Homo sapiens: one gene and its partner. The protein of the gene in region 1 purifies or fractionates together with the protein of each later gene. This does not show direct contact. Each region holds a gene or a part of one and is shown in the gene's direction. Other genes may lie near its edges. The genes, in order: PNPLA6 and SLC30A4.

Evidence for each region.
Region 2: the proteins of PNPLA6 (region 1) and SLC30A4 purify together in Homo sapiens (co-immunoprecipitation; one large-scale study listed by IntAct). This does not show direct contact.

What each region holds. Positions count from the first base shown.
Region 1 is NC_000019.10:7,556,016-7,559,836, forward strand, and holds part of PNPLA6 (patatin-like phospholipase domain-containing protein 6), read left to right. Parts: intron 1-437; coding exon 438-554; intron 555-639; coding exon 640-709; intron 710-1,152; coding exon 1,153-1,269; intron 1,270-2,834; coding exon 2,835-3,136; intron 3,137-3,821. UniProt on the Homo sapiens protein: Phospholipase B that deacylates intracellular phosphatidylcholine (PtdCho), generating glycerophosphocholine (GroPtdCho). This deacylation occurs at both sn-2 and sn-1 positions of PtdCho.
Region 2 is NC_000015.10:45,505,557-45,509,377, reverse strand, and holds part of SLC30A4 (probable proton-coupled zinc antiporter SLC30A4), read left to right. Parts: intron 1-367; coding exon of another isoform or gene 368-429; exon of another isoform or gene 430-520; intron 521-3,821. UniProt on the Homo sapiens protein: Probable proton-coupled zinc ion antiporter mediating zinc import from cytoplasm potentially into the endocytic compartment. Controls zinc deposition in milk.

The sequences.
Region 1 (3,821 bases):
GGATGGCCTTGGATGACCACATCATCCCTAAGTGTTCCTTTTTTTTTTTTTTTTTTTTTTTTTTTGAGACTGAGTCTTGCTCTGTCGCCCAGGCTGGAGTGCAGTGGCACAATCTCGGCTCACTGCAACCTCCACCTCCCAGGTTCAAGTGATTTATCCGCCTCAGCCTCATGAGTAGCTGGGATTACAGGCACGCCCCACCAGCCCGGCAAATTTTTTTGTATTTTAGTAGAGATGGGGTTTCACCATGTTGGCTAGGCTGCTTTTGAACTCCTGGCCTCAAGTGATCTGCCCGCCTTGGCCTCCAAAGTGCTGGGATTACCAGTGTGAGCCGCTGCACCTGGCCCCTAAGTGCTGCTTGCTCACCCCCTATTGATGAACCTTATCTGTGACCCCATGTAACTCCTATTTGACCCTGTCTGGCCCCTTGTCCCTAGAGCATGACTTCGGTGCTGGAACCTGTGTTGGACCTCACGTACCCAGTCACCTCCATGTTCACTGGGTCTGCCTTTAACCGCAGCATCCATCGGGTCTTCCAGGATAAGCAGATTGAGGTAGGCCCACCTCATCCCCTGCCCTGCCTACCCCTCCCCGGAGGAGCCCCCTGCTCCTCCCCCACCTCGATCCCTGTCCCCGCAGGACCTGTGGCTGCCTTACTTCAACGTGACCACAGATATCACCGCCTCAGCCATGCGAGTCCACAAAGATGGTGGGTGTCCCCGCCCAGCCTGCAGCAACCGCTGACGCCACGTGGGGTTGGGGGGATGCTTCCGGGAGGGCCGCTGAGCTTCTGGGACGTTGTTAACACGAGTGACCGTCCACCCTGGCCCGATCACCGACCACTAACCGCCACCCACTAATGCCCCGGAGACCCCAGGTACGTCCGTCCTTGGGGGAGGGGAGCAGGGAGACTCGTCGGACGCCTTACCCCCCTCACGCCATCCCCGCAGGCTGTGTGTGGCGTTACGTCCGGGCCAGCGCCTCCTACTGCCCCTACCTGCCCCCACTGTGCGACCCCAAGGACGGGCACCTGCTGGTGGACGGGTGCTACGTTAACAACGTCCCAGGTCAGCGAGCCCATCGGGCCGGCTGGGCCTCCGGCGTGTCTGAGCGTGTCTGTGCGTGTTTGTGTCTGTGTGTCCCACCGCGCAGGCTCCCTGTGGCGGTACGTGCGCGCCAGCATGACGCTGTCGGGCTACCTGCCCCCGCTGTGCGACCCCAAGGACGGGCACCTACTCATGGATGGCGGCTACATCAACAATCTGCCAGGCAAGTGGCCGCCCGCACCACCCGCACACGCAAGCACCTCCCGCACCACACACACGCACACGCGTGGGCACACACAGACAGGCTCGATGACGGGACACATGCCCAAGCTGCCCATGCAGGGGTGCAGACACACATGCGCACACATACGATCACTTGCACAAAATGATACATGAATGTGCCTGTGGACAGCGACATGTGCAGTTGAGATCTACATTCTGGCCAGGCGCGGTGGCTCAGCCTGGAATCCCAGCACTTTGGGAGGCCTGAGGTGGGTGGATCACCTGAGGTCAGGAGTTTGAGACCCGCCTGGCCAACATGGTGAAACCCCGTCTCTACTAAAAATACAAAAAATTAACCAGGCTGGTGGGGTGTGCCTGTAATCCCAGCTACTCAGGAGGCTGAGGCAGATAAATCACTTGAACCTGGGAGTTGGAGGTTGCAGTGAGCTGAGATCATGCTACTGCACTCCAGCCTGGGCGACAGAGCAAGACTCAGTCTCAAAAAAAAAAAAAAAGAAAGAAAGAAATCTACATCTACCTGCTGGCGTGCTGTGTTAAGCACAAGTGGATGTACGTACAAGAGGGACAGGTGCACACGTCCACACACACATCAGGGGACATGCAGGTGGAATGCAACACTCGTGTGCACACCAGCTATATATGCACATGCTTTCTCTCAGGGGCAGGTAGGGCTTACACACACGTGTACACACAGGCACATGTGCACAGATGAACACGTGTGTCAGTGAAATAGGGCATTTGCCAACGCATGCCAGTCTGTCCCGTTTGTCCTGCACGTTCCCTCAAACACGCAGGGATGTGCACACACGTAGATAGGATGCGGCACCTCTGACCGAGTTAAGTCATGCCTACCACCTTTATGGGTGCAGGTGAGAAGCGGGCAGGTACACAACTTAAAATCTCACACCCCAGAAGTGTGCATATATGAACAGACATGTACGCCAACTGCACACATGCTCACAATCTTGTAGGCCAGGGGTGGGCAAACTATGGCCCACAGGCTGAGTCCTGCCCTCTGTTTGATTGTATAAATAAAGCTTTATTGAGCTGGGCACAGTGGCTCATGCCTGTAATCCCAGCACTTTGGGAGGCTGAGGCGGGTGGATCACTTGAGGTCAGGAATTCGAGGCCAGCCTGGCCAACATGGTGAAACCCGGTTTCTACTAAAAATACAAAAATTAGCTGGGCGTGGTGGTGTATGCCTCTAATCCCAGCTACTTGAGAGGCTGAGGCAAGAGAGTTGCTTGAACCCGGGAGGTGGAGGTTGCATCGAGCCCAGATCGTGCCATTGCACTCCAGCCTGGGCGACAGAGTGAGACTCTGTCTCAGAAAATAAAACAAAACCTCCCAACACCTGACCCCCCTCCTCAACTTCAGTTGCATCATTTGCACGTCTGTGCATGACAGCATGGTGTTTGCATGTGTGGGTATTCTCTCTTTTTTTTTTGCGTGATCATTTGCATGATGGCATCTGTGGGACTGGGTTGAACATCTCTGCCCCGGGCCCCCGAGGGGAGCAGCCCGCTGACCCCCCTGGCCCCACAGCGGACATCGCCCGCAGCATGGGTGCCAAAACGGTCATCGCCATTGACGTGGGGAGCCAGGATGAGACGGACCTCAGCACCTACGGGGACAGCCTGTCCGGCTGGTGGCTGCTGTGGAAGCGGCTGAATCCCTGGGCTGACAAGGTAAAGGTTCCAGACATGGCTGAAATCCAGTCCCGCCTGGCCTACGTGTCCTGTGTGCGGCAGCTAGAGGTTGTCAAGTCCAGCTCCTACTGCGAGTACCTGCGCCCGCCCATCGACTGCTTCAAGACCATGGACTTTGGGAAGTTCGACCAGATCTATGTGAGTGGGCAGGAGTGGCATGGTGCCTGCATAGGTGGTCCGGCTAAGCTTTGCTACTTAAAGCCCAGAGTGGTATGAGGGGGAGGAATCCAGGAGGAATCCAGGAATCCCATCTGGAATCTCTGGAAAACAGATCAGTGATCAATTGGTGATGTCTGCAGGGGATGTAGTAGGGGTGTGGCTGTGCATGTGCTGTGTAAGAACTTTCTCCTTATAGGCCAGCTGCACCCCTGGAAGCACTGTATAGTGATTTCTACTGCCATTTCTGCATTGGTGGGAATGAGAATAGTGATGAAGCAGAAATGTCTGCCACAGTTCCAGGAGAGGGAGGTAGCAGTGCGTGTGTTATGTGCTACTGACCCTGAAAAATGTGCCATAGCCCAAGCCAATTGAAATTGATCAGGGGGCCAGGCATGGTGGCTCATGCTTGTAATCCCAGCACCTTGGGAAGCTGAGGTGGGAGGATTGCTTGAAACCAGGAGTTCAAGACCAGCCTGTGCAACATAGCAAAACCCCATCTCTACAAAGATTAAAAATAAAAAATTAGCTGGGTGTGGTTGTGCATGCCTGTCACCCCAGCTACTTAGGGGGCTGAGGTGGGAGGACCGCTCGAGCCCAGGAGTTTGAAGCTGCAGTGAGCTATGATTGCGTCACTGCACTCCAGCCTGGGTGACAGAGCAAAACT
Region 2 (3,821 bases), on another chromosome or scaffold:
GGAAGCTGAGGCAGAAGAACTGCTTGAACCCGGGAGGCGGAGGTTGTAGTGAGCCTAGATCATGCTGCTGCACTCCATTCTGGGCGGCAGAGTAAGACTCTTGTCTCTCTCAAAAAAAAAAAAAAAAAAGAATGTGTTCCTAAAGGAAACTCCACTGCTTCTCAACATATTATATAGTCATTTGTTTACTGGTTGCCTTAGGATTTTTAAACAGCTTCAAAATTATTTTTAAACATTAATTTTTTTGAGATTTAAACACCTGCAGTTAAGATCTAAGATGTAAACATATCATCATGGAATGGGAATTTTTTTAACACTGCTTGAGAGAGTACATTTATATAGTCCTGTGGTTCTTAAACTCTTTTAGGTTATAAACCCTTTGGAATTCTGATGAAAGCAGTGAAACACTCCCTCAGAAACATGCAATAACAGAACACAGAAGATGCTACACATATAAGTTAAGAACCCATAATAATGAAACTTCTATTAAATATTAAAGAAGTACTTAGTGTTTGTTCTACATAGTCACTTTGCTTCTTCATAAATAAATACTATGTAAAAATAAGAGACAATAGAACTGACCGGTCCTATTGTGTCTCTGGAATTTTCTATAGAAAGTCAAATCTTTCCCTTTCCTTAAAAGTACTAAGTTCCAAGAAGGTAGACCAGACAGCACCATTTGATTCCTGTCTCTCTGAGAGTCCATTAAGATAAAAACATAGAGGTACCAAAACACCAAAGAGAATTACATGATTGGGTTACCAGTAAACACATTTCCAGAAATTTTTGGAAGTTGTAAAGTACATATGAGTGGGTTGAAGGAGAAAACAAGCCAAGAAGCAATGTGTAGAACATACTCTGAACTAGGAACTGGACCAGCCCAACAGATCTTAAGGCTTAGGGACAGAGATGAGCAGAAATGAGAATTGGGGCTGAAAACGGAAGATTAATTGAATAAGTGGGAAGCCGTTCCCAGTGGTCACTATGCCCCTACCTCCCTTCTTACTCCTACCTCTACTCAGGCAGCCTACACTTTCCGCCAAGTAAAACACCACATAGTTCTTCTAGAAAGAAACTGAACAAAATGTTCAGGGAAAACTAAGAATTAGTGTGGAAGTTGATGCTCCAAAATAAGTCTTACTTTTACCAGAATTCAGATTTCTACCACCTCATATCCTGATTCTCCACCTACTCATCCTAAAGGAATATAGTTATCCTCTGCCCTGCCCTACACCCCATATTAATAACCATTTTAGGCTGGACATGGTGGTTTATGCCTGCAATCCTAGCATTGTGGGAGGCTGAGGCAGAAGGATCCCTTGAACCCAGAAGTTCGAGACCAGCCTGGGCAACATAGGAAGACCCTGTCTCTACCAAAAAATATTATTTCAATTCATTTCTGGCTTATCCTTCCAGCATTTCCTTTTTACAAAGGATAGTTTCCCTATCCTTCTGCCCTAAGTATGAATAGACAACCAAGAATCTTCCAGCATGTGGGAAAAACCAGCACCATGAATTAAAATGACCAAAACTAAACTAATAGAAAAATTAACCCTAAAGGAAAGAGAAGTAACTTAAAGAACCAGGAGAAGCTGGGCATGGTGGCTCATGCCTGTAATCCTATCACTTTGGGAGGCCAAGGTGGGCGGATCACTTGAAGCCAGGAGTTTGAGACCAGCCTAGCCAACATGGTGAAACCCTGTTTCTACTAAAAATACAAAACCTAGCTGGGCATGGTGGTGCCCACCTGTAATACCAGCTGCATGGGAGGCTGAGACATGAGAATCACTTGAACTTGGGAGGTGGAGGTTGCAGTGAGCCAAGATCAAGCCACTGCACTCCAGCCTGGGCAACAGAGTGAGACAAAAAAAAAAAAAAGGAAAAAGAAAAGAACAGAACCAGGAGAAAAGTTTTTAAATTATCTTATTAATATGCTCAGAATAATAAAACAGTAAAATGTTTTGGAAAAATAAATACAAGAAATAGCTCTTTGAAATTAAAATTATTCCTGAAATTTATTATTTATTTATTTATTTATTTATTTATTTATTTATTTTTGAGACAGAGTCTCACTGTGTCACCCAGGCTGGAGTGCAATGGCGCGGTCTCGGCTTACTGCAACCTCCACTTCCCAGGTTCAAGTGATTCTCCTGCCTCAGCCTCCAGAGTAGCTGGGATTACAGGGGCCCGCCGCCACTCATGGCTAATTTTTGTATTTTTAGTAGAGACGGGATTTCACCATGTTGGCCAGGATGATCTGGATCTCCCGTCCTCGTGATCCACCCGCCTCGGCCTCCCAAAGTGCTGGGTTTATAGGCATGAGCCACCGCCCCCAGCCAAGCCTTACTATTAAGAACCTCAGAAAAATAGAACTTAAAAAATAAAAAGAAGTAACCACTTAATGCATATGGTATTTCTTTTTGAGGTGTTGAACATGTTCTGGAATTAGTAGTGATGATGGCTGCACAACCTTGTACATGTACTGAAAACCACTGAATTGTACACTTTAAAATGGTGAATTTTGTTACATGAATTTTATGTCAATTTTTAAAAGTCATCTAAAAAAATGAAAGGGAGGGAATTGTTAAAGATATAGATAGATAGGTATTTCCTGAGCTAAGAAGGTACTCAAGCTTCACACTGAAACTTTTGGGATCTTCTTTTTTTTGTTGTTTTGTATTCTGAAATATTATGAGGGGATATCTAGATATAGACCTTATTTCACTTATTCTGCTCTATGAAATAATGGTGGAAATTTGGAAGAAAAAACTTAGTTTGCTTGAGGAAGATTCAAAGATACATAGAATTTGATGAATAAAGCTGTAAACCAAAGCAGTTGGTGTCCCTGAGTTCCACAGTACCATTGCTTCAGAGTAATCTCTTGAAGTTCTATGGGGAGAGATATATTTACATTTGGACACACTTAAGTAGGGTAGCTCTTGTGATCTCTAATTCCAGACTTGGAGATTCAGGTCCTGAAAACTTCACAGAGGGAATCCCCACAAGAAGCTTGGTTTGTTACCATTCTTGTTGAATTTTGTTTTGTTTTGATGACATGGTGGGGTGGGACAGGGATGGGTTTTTTCTCTGTTGATTTATTTTGTAAATATGCAAAACATGTTGCAAAAGTCAAATTTTATTTTATTAATTTATTTATTTGAGAGTGGGTCTCACTCCGTTGTCCAGGCTGGAGTGCAGTGGCGTGATCTCAGCCCCCTGCATCCTTGACCTCCTAGGCTCAAGCAATCCTCCCACCTCAGCCTCTCGAGTAGCTGGGACTGGGACTGGGACCACAGGCATGCACCACCATGCCTGGCTAACTTTTGTATTTTTTGTAGAGACGAGGCTTTGTTTCCCAGGCTGGTTGCAAACTCTGCAGCCTGTTTCCCAGGCTGGTTTTGAACTCTTGAGATCAAGTGATCCACCCGCCTCGGCCTCCCAAAGTGCTGGGATTACAGAGATAAGCCATCATGCCTGGCCAAAAATTATTTTTTAAAAGAAAACACAGAGAAGTCTTGCTTTCATTCCCCTCCACTCCATCTCCCCATACCATTCCATAAGAGTAGACCCTTTTAATTGGTTTCTAGCCTATCCTTCCAGCACTTCCTTTTGAAAACATAAGCAAATACATATATATGTTCATATCCTGCTTCTCACCACCCTTTTTTATGCAATAGGCAGTATACTGTATACTCAACTCTAGACCTGGAGGCAGTGATTCTATATAGAGTTCCACCTCCAGATCACTTTATAACAGTACATAGAAGCTTCTGGTTTGAAAATGTCAGAGCTTAAAGGAGGAGAACAACCACTTAACTATT